Homo sapiens: one gene and its partners. The protein of the gene in region 3 interacts with the protein of the main gene of each other region in a pairwise test. Each region holds a gene or a part of one and is shown on either strand. Other genes may lie near its edges.

Region 1 (3,661 bases), on a different chromosome or scaffold from region 3:
GAAACTAGAGGGTTAACCCATCTCTACTCCTAGGGTAGCCATGGACAGAGACGCTATTTTCCTTAAAATCTAATTTGGGTCATTTACAAATGTGGAAGCAAAAGCTGAGACATTAGGTAACTTGCTTAAGGTTAACTAAGGACTGAAATAGACTCCGGAGAGCTAGAACAGTGGTTCTCAATCCCAGCCGCATATTAGAATCCTCTAGGAGAGAGAAAGTTGGGGGAGGAGTAAAAGGGACATGGGAAAAAGAATGGGAAGGAGGGAAAAGGAAGAAAGTGAGAGAGGCAGAGATGAGGGGAAAAAAAAACAGAAAAAAAGAGAATAATTTCCATTTCACTCTAATGTGCTAACAGAGTCACTGAGGTTCCTCAATTCCAAGTATAACTGCAACAGTTTTAGGTGGGAAATTTTTCCAAGTAATTCTAACCAGATGCTCAACCCTGCCATAAAAATCCTCAGTAAACAAGCCTTTGAACAATGCAACTCACAGGAACATTGTCAAAATTAACCACTTGGAAAATATACACCTAGACAAAGAAGTGGTATTGTTAAAACTTAGATCAAGACACTGATATTAAACCTTTGAATAATCTATTTTATTCAGAAAAAAAATCCAAACTCCTTGCATTTGTAACAAGGCACTAAATACTCTGACTCTTATCTCCGTAGCTCTAACCTAGTTTCATACCAACTTTTCCAATCCTCAATACGTACCAGTCCCACTATTTCTGAACATCCCAGGTTCCTTCCTGCTTTGGGAACTCTGTACTTGTTCTTCTCTCAGTTCTTCACATGGTTCTTCCTAATTCTCTACTTTTCATCTTAAATCTTAAAGATTACCTCCTCAAAGATGGTTTCCCAACCTACTCTGTTTAAATGAGACTTCCCTTGTTATTCATTATCACGGCATCCAGTGTATTTTATTCACAGTACTTAGAACACAACTGCAGGTCTCTCTCCACTAGAATGTGAGTCCTCTAAGGGAAAGGATCTTATCCTCCAGGTCCATAGATGAATCCCAAGTGCCTAAAATAATCTTGGGCCTACAGAAGACAATGAACTAAGTGGGGAGGGAAGGAGGAAGGGAGAGGGACAAACTTAGATGCTAGTAGATGGTCAACAAATATTATTAATGAATTTATTTGCATTGTGGGAAAATTCAATTGTGTAAACCAATTACACACTGAACACACACAGTAAAAAATGGTGATTTTGATTTTAGAAAAATTGATTATAGCAGTAATCAAACAATGAATCCATTTGTCTTTTCTAATAACATCTCCAGTTCACATTAATAAAACCACAATAATGGAAAAAATCCCACAATTTAATGTAAATTTTAAAATAGAATACAAACTTGTATCAACTTTTATACAATAAATAAGTTTTAAAAAGACTAGACAGAAATATATCAAAATTTTAACAAGTTATCTCTGGACAGTTTGACATATTTTCTTTTTTGCATCTTATTTTTCAAATTCTCTACAATGAGCATATTTTTACTTTTATGACCACAACAAAATTAAATAAAAAGAATAATTGCCACACTGCTCTAAAGCTAGCCATAACCATGATTGAAGAATAATTGTCGATACTGTACATTACTACATAATTTTAACTCATTAAAAAATTGTTTTGAATGACAGTCATTAAAGCCTACTTGTCATGGTGAATTTTTATTTTACTAGTTCTCTGTCACTATCACGCATTGCCACTTTTTTTTCTTTTTTGAGACAGAGTCTCGCTCTGTCGCCCAGGGTGGAGTGCAGTGGCGTGATATCGGCTCACTGCAAGCTCCACCTCCCGGGTTCACGCCATTCTCCTGCCTCAGCCTCCCGAGTAGCTGGGACTACAGGCGCCCGCCACCACGCCCAGCTAATTTTTTGTATTTTTAGTATAGATGGGGTTTCACCACGTTAGCCAGGATGGTCTCGATCTCCTGACCTCGTGATCCACCTGTCTTGGCCTCCCAAACTGCTGGGATTACAGGTGTAAGCCACCTCACGTGGCCGCCACTTTTTTCTTTTAATCTTGGGCAGTAGTTTAGCATGGCAGAAACACCTTCCTTGCACTCAAACTTCTAAATCCCAGCTCTGTCATTACGTAGTTGTGTAACTGTTTTCATCTTGTACATTAGAATAATACCACCAATTAAAGATATTCTGGTATATGGTAGGGTCTAAATAAAGAGTAGTAATTATTATCCATGGGAATACATTACCTACTAGCTAGATTATAAGCACTTTGAGAGACTGTGATTGCCTTGTATCCACTGTGTCCGTAGTCTAGCACTGAGTCAGCATGCCATAATTTTCAACATATTGTCATATCAATTACTATCTTCACTACCTTTTTCAGGGAGACCCATCTTAGGATTGTAGAAGGAGTATTACCTCTCTCCTGCTATTTTATTTTTATTTTATAGAGATGAGGGCTAACTATGCTGCCCAGGCTAGTCTCAAACTCCTGGGCTCAAGCAGTCCTCTCACCTTAGCCTCCCAAAGTGCTGGGATTAAAGACATGAGCCACTGCGCCTGACCCTCCTAGTTATTTTAATGGTAAGTTAGAATAACTCTTAAAAGCCAGAGAAAGTCAAATATTAAATCATATAGCTCTACACTCTCCTATGGCAACAGTAAATAAATGAGTAAATAAGACAATTTTAGATAGGGTAAATAATGTTATTACCTATTCAGGTCCATATTTCTAAATCACATGCTAAGCTGCTATTTTAGACATTACCTACTAATTTCCTGTTGTAATAGACGAAGATGTTTACTACACTTACACTATCTTCCCACTATATTTCATCCCAATTTTTGGTTAAACTGGCTGTAGTTCTGCATTATGATTAGGGAAATACTGCTTACTGTAAAGCCAAGAAATTTACTGTGATAATGTCTCCTTTTTTATAAAAAGTTTCGCTTTTCCTGTTGTGTCCCTATCCTTCGTTTTTTACATTAGATGCTATTTATACTCATCAACAGATTTTTCTTCCAAATGCTTAACATATCTATTGAGTCTACTTTTATCTGGAAACCTCCTTTTTGTAGAGACAGGGTCTTGCTTTGTTGCTCAGGCTGGTCCTAAACTCCTAGATTCAAGCAATCCTCCCATGTCCGTCTCTGGACTAGCTGGAATTACAGGCATATGCGACTGTGCCTTGCCTATCTTTTGTTTTTTTGTTTGTTTGTTTTAAAACAAGTTTTTCTTCTTAAATGTGAACAAATATTTTAATTTAAAAATATTTTTGTTGTTTTTGTTTTAAAGGAAGCTTGTATTAATCAATAAAATATCCAGAAACAATGTCTGTGAAACAAGTGCTTTTATCCACATTTGGCAAAAGAGCCAATAATAAAAACACCAATCTATAAGCAACAGCTAAAAAGAAAAGCAGCTGATTTAATTTCTCACTCTATTGTTCAAATTAGCATTTTAAACCATTGCACCTTAATTAAAGCCACTCTTTTAGGTACAATAATCACAGGCAAAGCAACTACTATGTAGGGTAACTATAAATGATCAAAACAGGACACTTTTGAAAATGAATGGAGCACTATTAATAATTATGCCAGGGCAATATGCATAATCTAAGCAAACCAGCCATTCCACTACTAATAACCTCCTAGATGCTGAGCTTTTAAACTTACAAGGTGTT
Region 2 (3,463 bases), on a different chromosome or scaffold from region 3:
TCACAGGCTATTGTAAGTCATATGAGCAAGCTCAATAAAATATAAACAAGTCAGATAAACAGTGGGAGGAATGGCAAAGTCATATGGCCAAGGCCATGAGTGATTAATTTTAACACAGGAAAAAAGTAAAGCATTAAATGCGATTATTTAATATACAATGTCTTATTAACTGAAATATAAAATGTGTTTACTGTAAAATATAATCTGTTTATCTCACCAAAGAAATATTATCTTTAAAAAATGTCATTACTTCTAAGACATCATCAGTCTGCAACTTCTTTCCATAGCCTTAATCAGGATGCTGTGGCAGCTCCCACATTAGCCTCGCATTCTAAACTGGTAGATGTCCTAGGAAACCATACATCTATGTATTTTTCTTATTTTATACGTTTAGGACAATGTATAGCTAATTACCCAACTTTTTATTTGCATACAAATCTAATACAACTGAACACAATCAGTTTTATCACAGGTATAATGGATTTTTCAATAGTGAGGAGGTGCCTCCATGAGCCTTCTCTTTAGAAAAGTGGCATTCAAGACTCTTCATTTGAAGTGAAGATTGCTATGTCTTTTGCATTGCTCTATTTTACATAAATTAAGTTATAAATTGACACTATAATCAACTGACACCATGATCAGTGATGATGATCACCCTCATCAGCACTAGAGTTGACTTGTTTTTATAACCCCTTTGCATGTATGTTGAATAGCAAAGTTCATCAGAGAACATGTATTAGTCAATGGTAAGTAAGATACTCTCATCTAAGAAATAACATCACCTCTTCTAATGAAGTTCTAAGAAGAGAGGGAAGAAAAAGTCTTGGGAGCTAGTCAGGGAATAGTGTGTATTTGCAATTACCTAAACTGAACTCTACCATTACTCCTAACCCAGTTCCTCCTCCTGTGTTTTACATGATTAATGCCACCCCTGCCTCAATGAACCAAGATCAGCTCCATCACTGGGACCTCCCCATTCTGCCTGTGCAATATTTTTCTTTTTTATTTCTCCTTCTAATATTACTGTTATTGCTCCAGTAAAGAGCTGTAATATATTTTACCTGGACTGATACCAGGAATGGTGGTGTTGCTTCCAATCTGTTGCTGCTAGATTAATCTTTGCAAAGCACAGGCTTAATTTCATTGCTGCTCAACTAAAACCACTGGTGGCTTTCCATTGCCTACAAAATAAAGTCAACCTCCCCATCAGACATTCAAGGCTTTCAATGATCCATGGCCGCCAGCTCTCTCCAGGCTCATATCCCACTCCACTCCTCTGATGTTTCCTACACTACACTACACTATACTACACTACAGCCAGGTAGAATGACTGTTCACCCAACACCACTCAGGTTGTCTTCTCAACTTGGAATACTCTTGCACCTTCAAAGCTCATTTCAAATGCCCCTTCATTTGTGAAGCCTTCTCCAAATTTCCAAGTCAGAATGTCTCTTCCTTGTGCTACCACAACCCTTTAACTGAGCCTCCATTAGTGCACTGAGACCATTCTGTTCAGTGTCTGGGTGAAGCTTCCTGGTGAAAAATATGTTACCTATTTCTTTCTGAAAAGTTGGATTCAGGGATATTATCACGGACCTAAGGTAATAGTTCTAGCCAACCTCCCTGTCCACTGCCAGGCCGACTACAAACCCTTCTGTTGCTGGCGAGCTGGTCCGCACCACTAGTTCTGCTTCACTCTATTTATCTCTTGATGTAACCATCTTCTTTCTCCAGGTTTTAAGAACCAGCCCAACTCCTGGTTCCCTGATGAAGCTTTTATTCCCCTAGCCACATGGAACTTTTCCTTTTTGGAACATGCCTTTAGTTTCTGTGTAGTTTGCCATGCAGCACTTCATTGTACACATTATTAAAACAGAATTTTAAGGATTAGAATGAACCTTAAAAGATCATGCATCTCAAAATTTAATGTACATACAAATTACCCAGGGATTTTGTTGAAATAAAAATTATTTAATTTTAATTAATATAAATAATTCAGTAGGTCTGGGGTGAGGCCTGAGGTTTTACATTTCCAACAAGCTGCCAGGTAAAGCCAATACATCTGTCCAGGAATCACACTTTGCGTATCAAAGGTCTAGATGACATTATCATTCCAAAGAGTTTCTTTTACAGGCTCTCAGATCAGTGTTCATCCACTACCTGACTACTGTCATTCACAGGCATTCTGTTCCACAGCAGGCCAGCTAACGTGGTATTTACAAAGCTCACTCCTCTTATACAACAATCCAAGTGTTTCTTTTGTCAGTTGTCTGTGCCCCAGGAGATCCCTCTCTGCCTTGCCTTGCCCTCTGCCTTTGGAGACCAGCACCTCATACTCAGTGAAGGCCTGGAGTGCTTAAGAGGGATTTCTTCCAGCTCTCTTGCCCTGGTCTTCAGTGTATTAGATGTATTACCTCCATGCTCTCAGTAGAGGCCCATAGGAAAGAGTAGGTAGGTTATGCCAGCTCACACGCATCCTTTAAAAATGGTTTAGAAGTTTAGCTGGTTTCTTATTACTCCTGTCTATGGATGTTTCCTTCTGTCACTCTACTAGGGATGAAACAGCTAATCATGTTCAATAGTTACATTTAGATTGGTTTTTAAAAACTATGATTGTATTAGTTCGTTTCCATGCTGCTGATAAAGACATATCTGAGACTGGAAACAAAAAGGGTTTAATTGGACTTACAGTTCCACATGGCTGGGGAGGCCTCAAAATCAGGTGGGAGGCAAAAGGTACTTCTTACGTGGTGGCATCAAGAGCAAAATGAGGAAGAAGCAAAAGCAGAAACTCTTCATAAACCCACCAGATCTTGTGGGACTTATTATCACGAGAATAGCACAGAAAAGACTGGCCTCCATGATTCAATTACCTCCCACTGCGTCCCTCCCACAACATGTGGGAATTCTGGGAGATACAATTCAAGTTGAGATTTGGGTGGGGACACAGCCAAACCATATCATTCCTCCCTGGGCTCCTCCAAATTTCATAATCCTCACATTTCAAAACCAATCATTCCTTCCCAACAGTTCCCCAAAGTCTTAACTCATTTCAGCATTAACCCAAAAGTCCACAGTCCAAAGTCTCATCTGAGACAAGGCAAGTCCCTTCCACTTACAAGCCTGTAAAAGCAAGCTAGTTACCTCCTAGATACAATGGGGGGTACAGGTATTGGGTAAATACAGCTGTTCCAAATGAGAGAAATTGGCCAAAACAAAGGGGTTACAGGGTCCATGCAAGTCTGAAATCCAGTGGGGCAGTCAAATTTTAAAGCTCCATAATGATCTCCTTTGACTCCATGTCTCACATTCAGGTCATGCTGATGCAAGAGATAGGTTCCCATGGTCTTGTGCAGCTCCGCCCCTGTGGCTTTGCAGAGTACAGCCTCCCTCCTGGCTGCTTTCTCAGGCTGATGTTGAGTGTCTGTAGCTTTTCCAGGCACAAGATGCAAGTTGGTGGTTG
Region 3 (3,661 bases):
TTTCCCTTTCTACTGCCTCTTCCTCTTGTCTTGTTACTGTAGACTGTGTGTGTGTGTGTGTGTGTGTGTGTGAGTTTTCCGTTGTTACTGTTGATTTTCTGCGTGTTTTGTGAGAGGACCACGCCGATTGTGGTGGGCAACTGTGTCCCAGTAGCAGTAGCAGTAGCAAAGGAGAAGTATCATAGAGAGTAGATAATACTTTAAAATCACAGAATAAGAAGAGTGAATTTTTATTTAACCTATCATTGTGCTGCATTGGTTTTACCTAAGTATCATGAGACACTTTTAACAGTAAAAACTACTATTCATATATTCACGTATTACAGAATTTCAAAAGAATGATTTTAATTATTTTCCAGAGTGACGAGAATTTTCCTTATCTTTGAAATAGAAGTATTTTGCTTTCTTTTGCTCCAAAGGTATTCTGGTTTTTTGTTGTTGTTCTGGTGTTTTTGTGTATGTGTGTGTGATAGGATTTCAACTTTGTTGCCTTGATGGAGTGCAGTGGTGCGATCATGGCTCACTGCAGTCTAGACCTCCTAGGCTCAAGGGATCCCCCTGCCTCCATCTCCCAAGTAGCTGGGACCACAGGCTCCTGTCACTATGCTGGGCTAAGTTGTAATTTTTTTTTTTGTGGAGATGGGGTCTTACTGTGTTGCCTAGGCTAGTGTTGAATGTTTGGGCTCCAGTGATCCTCCCACCTTGGCATCCCAAAGTACTGGAATTACAAGCCTGAGCCACTGTGTCCAGCCTGTATTCTGTTTTTAAGATGTTCTTCTAAATTGAAATTACTGCTTTTGGAAGCAGTATTGTTCCTGAAATGATTTGAAGAGATTAATGTTAGATAATACTAGACATGCAGATAAGGTTGATTGGATTGCAGAGGAACAACAGGGTATGTATAGTATATGTGAAATTTTTTTAAAGGCCTTTTGCTTAGCAGTCACACAACAACTATTGAAAAACCCAGGGATAGCCCCTCTTATTTTTGAAATTGTTGTCAGTATTGAATAAGTACAAATGTGACAAGTTTAGACTTAGTTATAATGATAACGGGAAAATAATTTTAATAAATATGACAATGGACTTAGTTTAAATGTTTCAACAACAGATTGCATTTTTATATTTTTCTAGTTATTACCACTATTTGGATATTTTATAGAGTGCTTTATATATACACACACTAGTGGATCTGGACAAGATCCTGGAATTTTCATTTTAAATTTTAGAGAGTGGTAGAACCTGGAGGTTAGATCTTCCCAGTCATGAGTAAATCAGGATTGAAAATTTTCACTAACTCCAGATTTAGTGTTCTTTTCACAATCCCATAGTATTGCCTCTTTAAGTTCATATGAGACTTAATTATCTCAAGTAGATAAAATCCTGTGATCACATTTAGAACTTTTAAAGAATAGTTGAGATTGAAAATACTTACTCTGGGGGAAAAAGGTAACTGGAACACAGTGCTTCAGAAAAGTCCAGACACCTTGATTTTACTAATTTAGAACAGTTTAGAAGAAATCCAAGGTAAGTCAAAGTTGGGAATTATAGGAAGCAATGAAATAGTCAATTTCAGTGGGTGTGGTGGCTTACGCCTGTAATCCCAGCACTTTGGGAGGCCAAAGTAGAAGGATCGCTTGAGCCCAAGAGTTCTAGACCAGCCTGGGCAACATAGTGGGACCCCGTCTCTACCCCTAAAAATTAACCGGGCTAAGTGGCACACACTTGAAATCCCAGCCACTTAGGAGGCTGAGGGAGGAGGATTGGTTGAGCCCAGGAGGTTGAGGCTTCAGTGAGCTATGATGGCCTGGGTGACAGAGTGAGACCCTATCTTAAAAAAAAAATAAGTAAATAAATAGTGAATTGCATTTTTTTTTTTTTTTTTTGAGACAGAGTCTTGCTCTATCGTCCAGGCTGGAGTGCGGTGGTACAATCTCTACTCATTGCAGCCTCTCCTGGGTTCATGCAGTTCTTCTGCCTCAGCCTCCTGAGTAGCTGAGTAGCTGGGATTACAGGCGCTTAGCACCACGTCCGGCTAATTCTTGTATTTCTAGTAGAGACGGGGTTTCACCATGTTGGCCAGGCTGGTCTTGAACTCCTGACCTCAGATGATCTGCCCGCCTCGGCCTCCCAAAATGCCGGGATTACAGGCATGAGCCACTGCGCCTGGCCTGAATTGTCCTTTTTTTTTTTTTTTAAGATGGAGTCTCGCTCTGCTGTTGTCAGGCTGGAGTACAGTGGCGCCATCTTGGCTCACTGCAACCTCCGCCTCCCGGGTTCAAGCAATTCTTCTGCCTCAGCCTCCTGAATAGCTGAGAATACAGGCATGCGCCACCACGCCTGGCTAATTTTTGTATTTTTAGTAGAGGGGAGGTTTCAACATGTTGGCCAGGATGGTCTCGATCTCTTGACCTCGTGATCTGCCCGCCTCGCCCTCCCAAAGTGCTGGGATTACAGGCGTGAGCCACAGTGCCCAGCCAGAATTTCACTTTTTAATTGAAATGTTATGAACAATAACCAAATAGGTTGAACTTTTTTGTTGTTTTTTGAGACCGAGTCTTGCTCTGTTGCCCAGGCTGGAGTGCAGTGGCGCCATCTCGGCTCACTGCAAGCTCCGCCTCCCGCGTTCACGCCATTTTCCTGCCTCAGCCTTCCAAGTAGCTGGGACTACAGGTGCCCGCCGCGACGCCCGGCTAATTTTTTGTATTTTTAGTAGAGATAGGGTTTCACCGTGTTAGCCAAGGTGGTCTCTTATCTGCTGACCTAGTGATCCACTCGCCTCGGCCTCCCAAAGTGCTGGGATTACAGGAGTGATAGGTTGAACTTTTGTTATACTTACTCTGTCTTTCCCACCTGTACCCCCAGTCATTAGCGCTTGAACACTTCCTAAATATAATTGCTTATCTAATTTCTTGCACTTTTTAAGTTTGAACAGATATTTCAGCATGCTTGCTTACAAGTGCAAATGTCTGTTAAGCATTACGGGGGTGATATAAAAATGTTTCTTTTTTTTTTTTTTTTTTGAGACGGAGTCTTGCTCTGTCGCCCAGGCCCAGGCTGCAGGGCAGTGGCGCGATCTCCGCTCACTGCAAGCTCCGCCTCCTGGGTTCAGACCATTCTCCTGCTTCAGCCTCCCCAGTAGCTGGGACTACATGCGCCTGCCACCACGCCTGGCTAATTTCTTTTGTATTTTTAATAGAGAGGGGGTTTCACCGAGTTAGTCAGGATGGTCTTGATCTCCTGACCTTGTGATCTGCGCGCCTCGTCCTCCCAAAGTGCTGGGATTACAGGCGTGAGCCACCGCGCCCGGCCTAAAAATGTTCCTTAAAATGAAGGAATTGAAGAATTACTTGCCAAGATTTTGGGAAATTAGGTTTAAAAATGCCAGTTGGTAACTGCAAGAATCAAGTAAATCTAATAATCATGCAGAACAGTAGACAATAATAATGTATATTCTTTTTTTTTTTTTTTTTTTTTTTTTTTTTGAGACAGAATCTTGCTCTGTCGCCCAGGCCGAAGTGCAGTGGTGGCACTTTGTCAGCTCACTGCAACCTCCATCTCCTGGATTCAAGTGACTTTCCAGCCTCAGCCTCCCAAGTAGCCGGGATTACAAGCGCCTGCCACCACGCCTGGCTAATTTTTGTATATTTAGTAGCGATGG
Region 4 (3,661 bases), on a different chromosome or scaffold from region 3:
AAGTAAGGACATTAAAAAAATAAACAATTATCCCTTGGTAATAAACTAACCTTTTAAAATAAATATTCCGGTAAATTTTGTCTCTTAAGAAACTTGTGTCAACTAAAGTTGTTAGGATTTCAAGATATCTGTTAGCATTAGGAGTCATTATACCCATGAAAACTGGATGTTCTTCTTGCTTGGTGGTCTTCATCCTGACACTTCCTACCCCAAAACCATGACGGACACCTCGGCCGCACTTGCCTGACTTGTATTCTGCTCTCCTTTGGTGTCGGCTTCCTTTTGTGTTAGGCTGACCCAAGACCACTTTTCCAGGCTTATCTTCCCGGTCTTTCCCTATTTTATGCTGCAGTTAAAATAGCAAATGCTAGTTTCCATGCATACCCTGGCTTTCCTCTCCTGTGCACCTTTACCCCACGCTGAGGCCTTCCCAGCTTCCCCACCTCCCACAGGATCCTCAAATATGACTTCTTCATCTTGTATGCCCTGTTCAGGCGCTGCCTTCACGGGACTTTCTGTGATGACCCTGGTCCCAGGTATGTCCTCCTTCGAGCTCCTGTGGCTCTTCGCCTTTTCAACTCTTACCTGTTTTGTATTAAGTTACTCATAGACTAATTTATTTCTTCCCCTCAGACCATCCTTACAAGATCCAGGAAGGAAGGGACTGTTTCATCTACCTTTTTTATTCTCTGAATGCTGACCACAGTGCCCTTTATAGTACTCTATCAATAAATAACAAATACATGACACATTTTTTCACTGAACCCATGGTCCCTCCTGAAATAAAGTCTGTAAAAGCATTTCACCCATAGGATAAAGTCCATCTTTCAAGAAGCTGGTGTTGAATCTGAGCTGAGGACTAGTTCAGAGGCCTGAAATCCCCTCAGCCCAGTTGAGAGCCTCCTTCTCCTGAACATTGTGGCTGAGCATTACAGTCAGGAAAAGCTTCTATGATACTCTTATTGCATTAGCAGTTTTCCATATCAGATTCACTAAATACACAATGGAAGCCATTTAGTAGAAAAACAGATTTTAATGTGATACGGCTACCACAATGAAACACTAATGTGATTCCACAGAAAATTGCTAACACGATATGCTGATTCCTCCCCCCACCATAGCCGCATAAAAATTGATACTGTTTTTAATGTATGTGTTTCAAACTATGCTCACAAAAGAAAAGCAGACTGCTACTGAGATGAGCTGCTGCTTTGTTCACGTTGGATGTGTAAAGGGTCTTGTTATCAGCCTCGTCAGGCAGAATCTGCCTTCTGTGCCTTGGTCATTCTATTATCGAACAATACTAACTCTCATTTTAAAATATATCATGTTCTGTGTAACAATCCAGTATTAAAGTTAATATGATGTGAAAAAATAGAATTTGCTTATAAATGTCATGCCCATATAATATATTCAGTTGTACCGTTTTAATTGGGAAGCTCTAATCAGCTCAAAACGCATTTTTCAAGAATCAAAACGACTCCCAATATAAAATTTAAATTCAGAATTTAAAATAAAAGGCATAAATATTAAGGTGGATTGTATATGTGTGTGCACACGGTTGTAACACTTTAGAAGTCATAAGCACTGAAGAGATTATGGTTCTTCCCCCTCATTCCCAGCCCACATTTAATTCAAAGAAAAAAGTTTAACCCAAAGAATAATTGTAAAGGAGACCTATGTAGTTCTGATTTTTTCCTATAATGACAATTTCCAATTCCTCTTTTTTAGATATTAAATATCAAAATCTTCTCTCTCTCTCTCTCTCTTTGTCTCATTCTTTGGTACTCTGATTAGCTGATTCACTGGTGGGGATTATTTTTATGTGAATTTCCCCTTGGGGAAATTTAATACTTAATATCTGATCACTTCCTTTTCTTTTTCATATTTAATTCTGAGGGACTATAAATAGAAAACATGTACTCCTCAGTCCCGAGGAGAGTTTGGTGCTGCAGTTGCGAAAAGCAATCTTCAGTTTACAAGCACTAGGAGTGCCAGGGATGCCCATTCATTCTAGGACTCCAGTTGCCAGTTTTCTATCACTGAACAAAGGAATCTGGATAGCATACATGTGGTCTTGCGGCCATTCAAACGTGTTGGTGACATTGGGGATTCTGAGTTGAGGATTCTGACGACTTAGAGTTTGCAAGTAGTAGAAGTGTGAACACTGTGAGGTAGCCACATCCTGAACTCACTGACCCCAGGAGCACATCCCTAGATACACTGGGCCATTTGCCTTAAATGACTGCTTTAATCTATGGAATATCTTCTTCCATACAGCCTGTTTTTTACTTTTCATCTGTTAAAGTGCTTAGAAGCCTATCAAATACAGATTTACTTTGGTTACTGTGTATTTTGATTTGTTTTCACAAAACGCAATAATTGTGCAATGGTTAATGTCATTCTAAAGGATTTTGTCCTACGTACTTGTGGGCTATGGAAAGCTTACAGCAGATTTGCAGGTCTTTTTTAAGAAGCATTTGATGGATGGTAGCGTTCAACTGAAGTGCCAGGAGTTGCTTTCTGAATTCTTGTATCTAAATTTAACTGACTTGGTAGTACCACATTTCAGGAGTTAATGGTAACGCAGAAAGGGATTCACAGATTCCATCAGTTTCCCACTTTGTGGCAGAATATTTGACATCTCTTATCAGTACACTTCATCATAAGTTCATGAATTCATCTTGCTCCTTTCTTTGCTGAGAATCACAGTGAGAGAATTGGAGTTTGGCTGAGAGGAGGAGTGAGGAAGGAAGAAGGAAGAGTAAGTTTTTTTTTGTTTTGTTTTTGTTTTTTGAGATGGAGTCTCTCTCTGTCGCCCAGGCTGGAGTGCAGTGGCACCATCTCGGCTCACTGCAAGCTCCACCTCCCGGGTTCATGCCATTCTCCCGCTTCAGCCTCCCAAGTAGCTGGGACTACAGGCACCTGCCACCACGCCCGGCTAATTTTTTGTATTTTTAGTAGAGACAGGGTTTCACCATGTTAGCCAGGATGGTCTCGATCTCCTGACCTCATGATCCGCCGGCCTCGGCCTCCCAAAGTGCTGGGTTTACAGGCGTGATCCACCGCGCCTGGCCCGAGAGTAAGTCATTTTAAGGCTTGGGCAGTAGCACTGTTGAGAAGTTTGAGGCACCTAAGTGTGGAAAGAGGGTGTTACAGAAAGCAGATTGGCAGATGCCAAAGGTAGACATCACATATTTGAATTAGTGTTAGTAGTATGAAAGGCACCTGCGTTGTGAGTTGAGAGGATCCTAGTGAGCTGGCCAGGGAAGTACATTAGCACTCATGACATTGTTCTAGGGGAAGGTGAATTCCAGTTTCCAAATAACTATGCAGGATTGAACACCATTTGTTCATAAAGCAAGACCACCAGTGATTGATGATATGGGTGATTATTATTAATGACATAAGTGATTATTAGAAGCCAAGAATGGTGGTAATGAATGTGGAAGATGAAAAATGTGTTAAGCTAAAAAGATTTTAGGTCTCATGTGGTTTTCTTTGTCTTGTTTATGCATTTAGTCATTCTTTGTTTTCTAGTGGAAGTAGAATTTTATTTTTAGGAATAGGAGTTGAATAAAATATTTGTCAAAGACAAACATTTATGGACATGAATGCTTCCCTTTCAGCTTATTGACTATATGTTTACACAAAGCAGTCA

The links. The genes of interacting proteins can lie anywhere in the genome.
Region 1: the proteins of RANBP9 (region 3) and MKLN1 interact in a two-hybrid assay, tested with the Homo sapiens proteins (2 studies listed by BioGRID).
Region 2: the proteins of RANBP9 (region 3) and ENTPD1 interact in binary tests that used the Homo sapiens proteins (3 or more experiments, as listed by UniProt).
Region 4: the proteins of RANBP9 (region 3) and SMAD9 interact in a two-hybrid assay, tested with the Homo sapiens proteins (one large-scale study listed by BioGRID and IntAct).

The regions. Positions count from the first base shown.
Region 1 is NC_000007.14:131,446,300-131,449,960, reverse strand, and holds part of MKLN1 (muskelin), read right to left. Parts: intron 1-3,661. UniProt on the Homo sapiens protein: Component of the CTLH E3 ubiquitin-protein ligase complex that selectively accepts ubiquitin from UBE2H and mediates ubiquitination and subsequent proteasomal degradation of the transcription factor HBP1.
Region 2 is NC_000010.11:95,871,087-95,874,549, forward strand, and holds part of ENTPD1 (ectonucleoside triphosphate diphosphohydrolase 1), read left to right. Parts: 3' UTR 1-3,463.
Region 3 is NC_000006.12:13,705,231-13,708,891, reverse strand, and holds part of RANBP9 (ran-binding protein 9), read left to right. Parts: intron 1-3,661. UniProt on the Homo sapiens protein: May act as scaffolding protein, and as adapter protein to couple membrane receptors to intracellular signaling pathways. Acts as a mediator of cell spreading and actin cytoskeleton rearrangement.
Region 4 is NC_000013.11:36,913,654-36,917,314, reverse strand, and holds part of SMAD9 (mothers against decapentaplegic homolog 9), read left to right. Parts: exon of another isoform or gene 1-536; intron 537-3,661. UniProt on the Homo sapiens protein: Transcriptional modulator activated by BMP (bone morphogenetic proteins) type 1 receptor kinase. SMAD9 is a receptor-regulated SMAD (R-SMAD).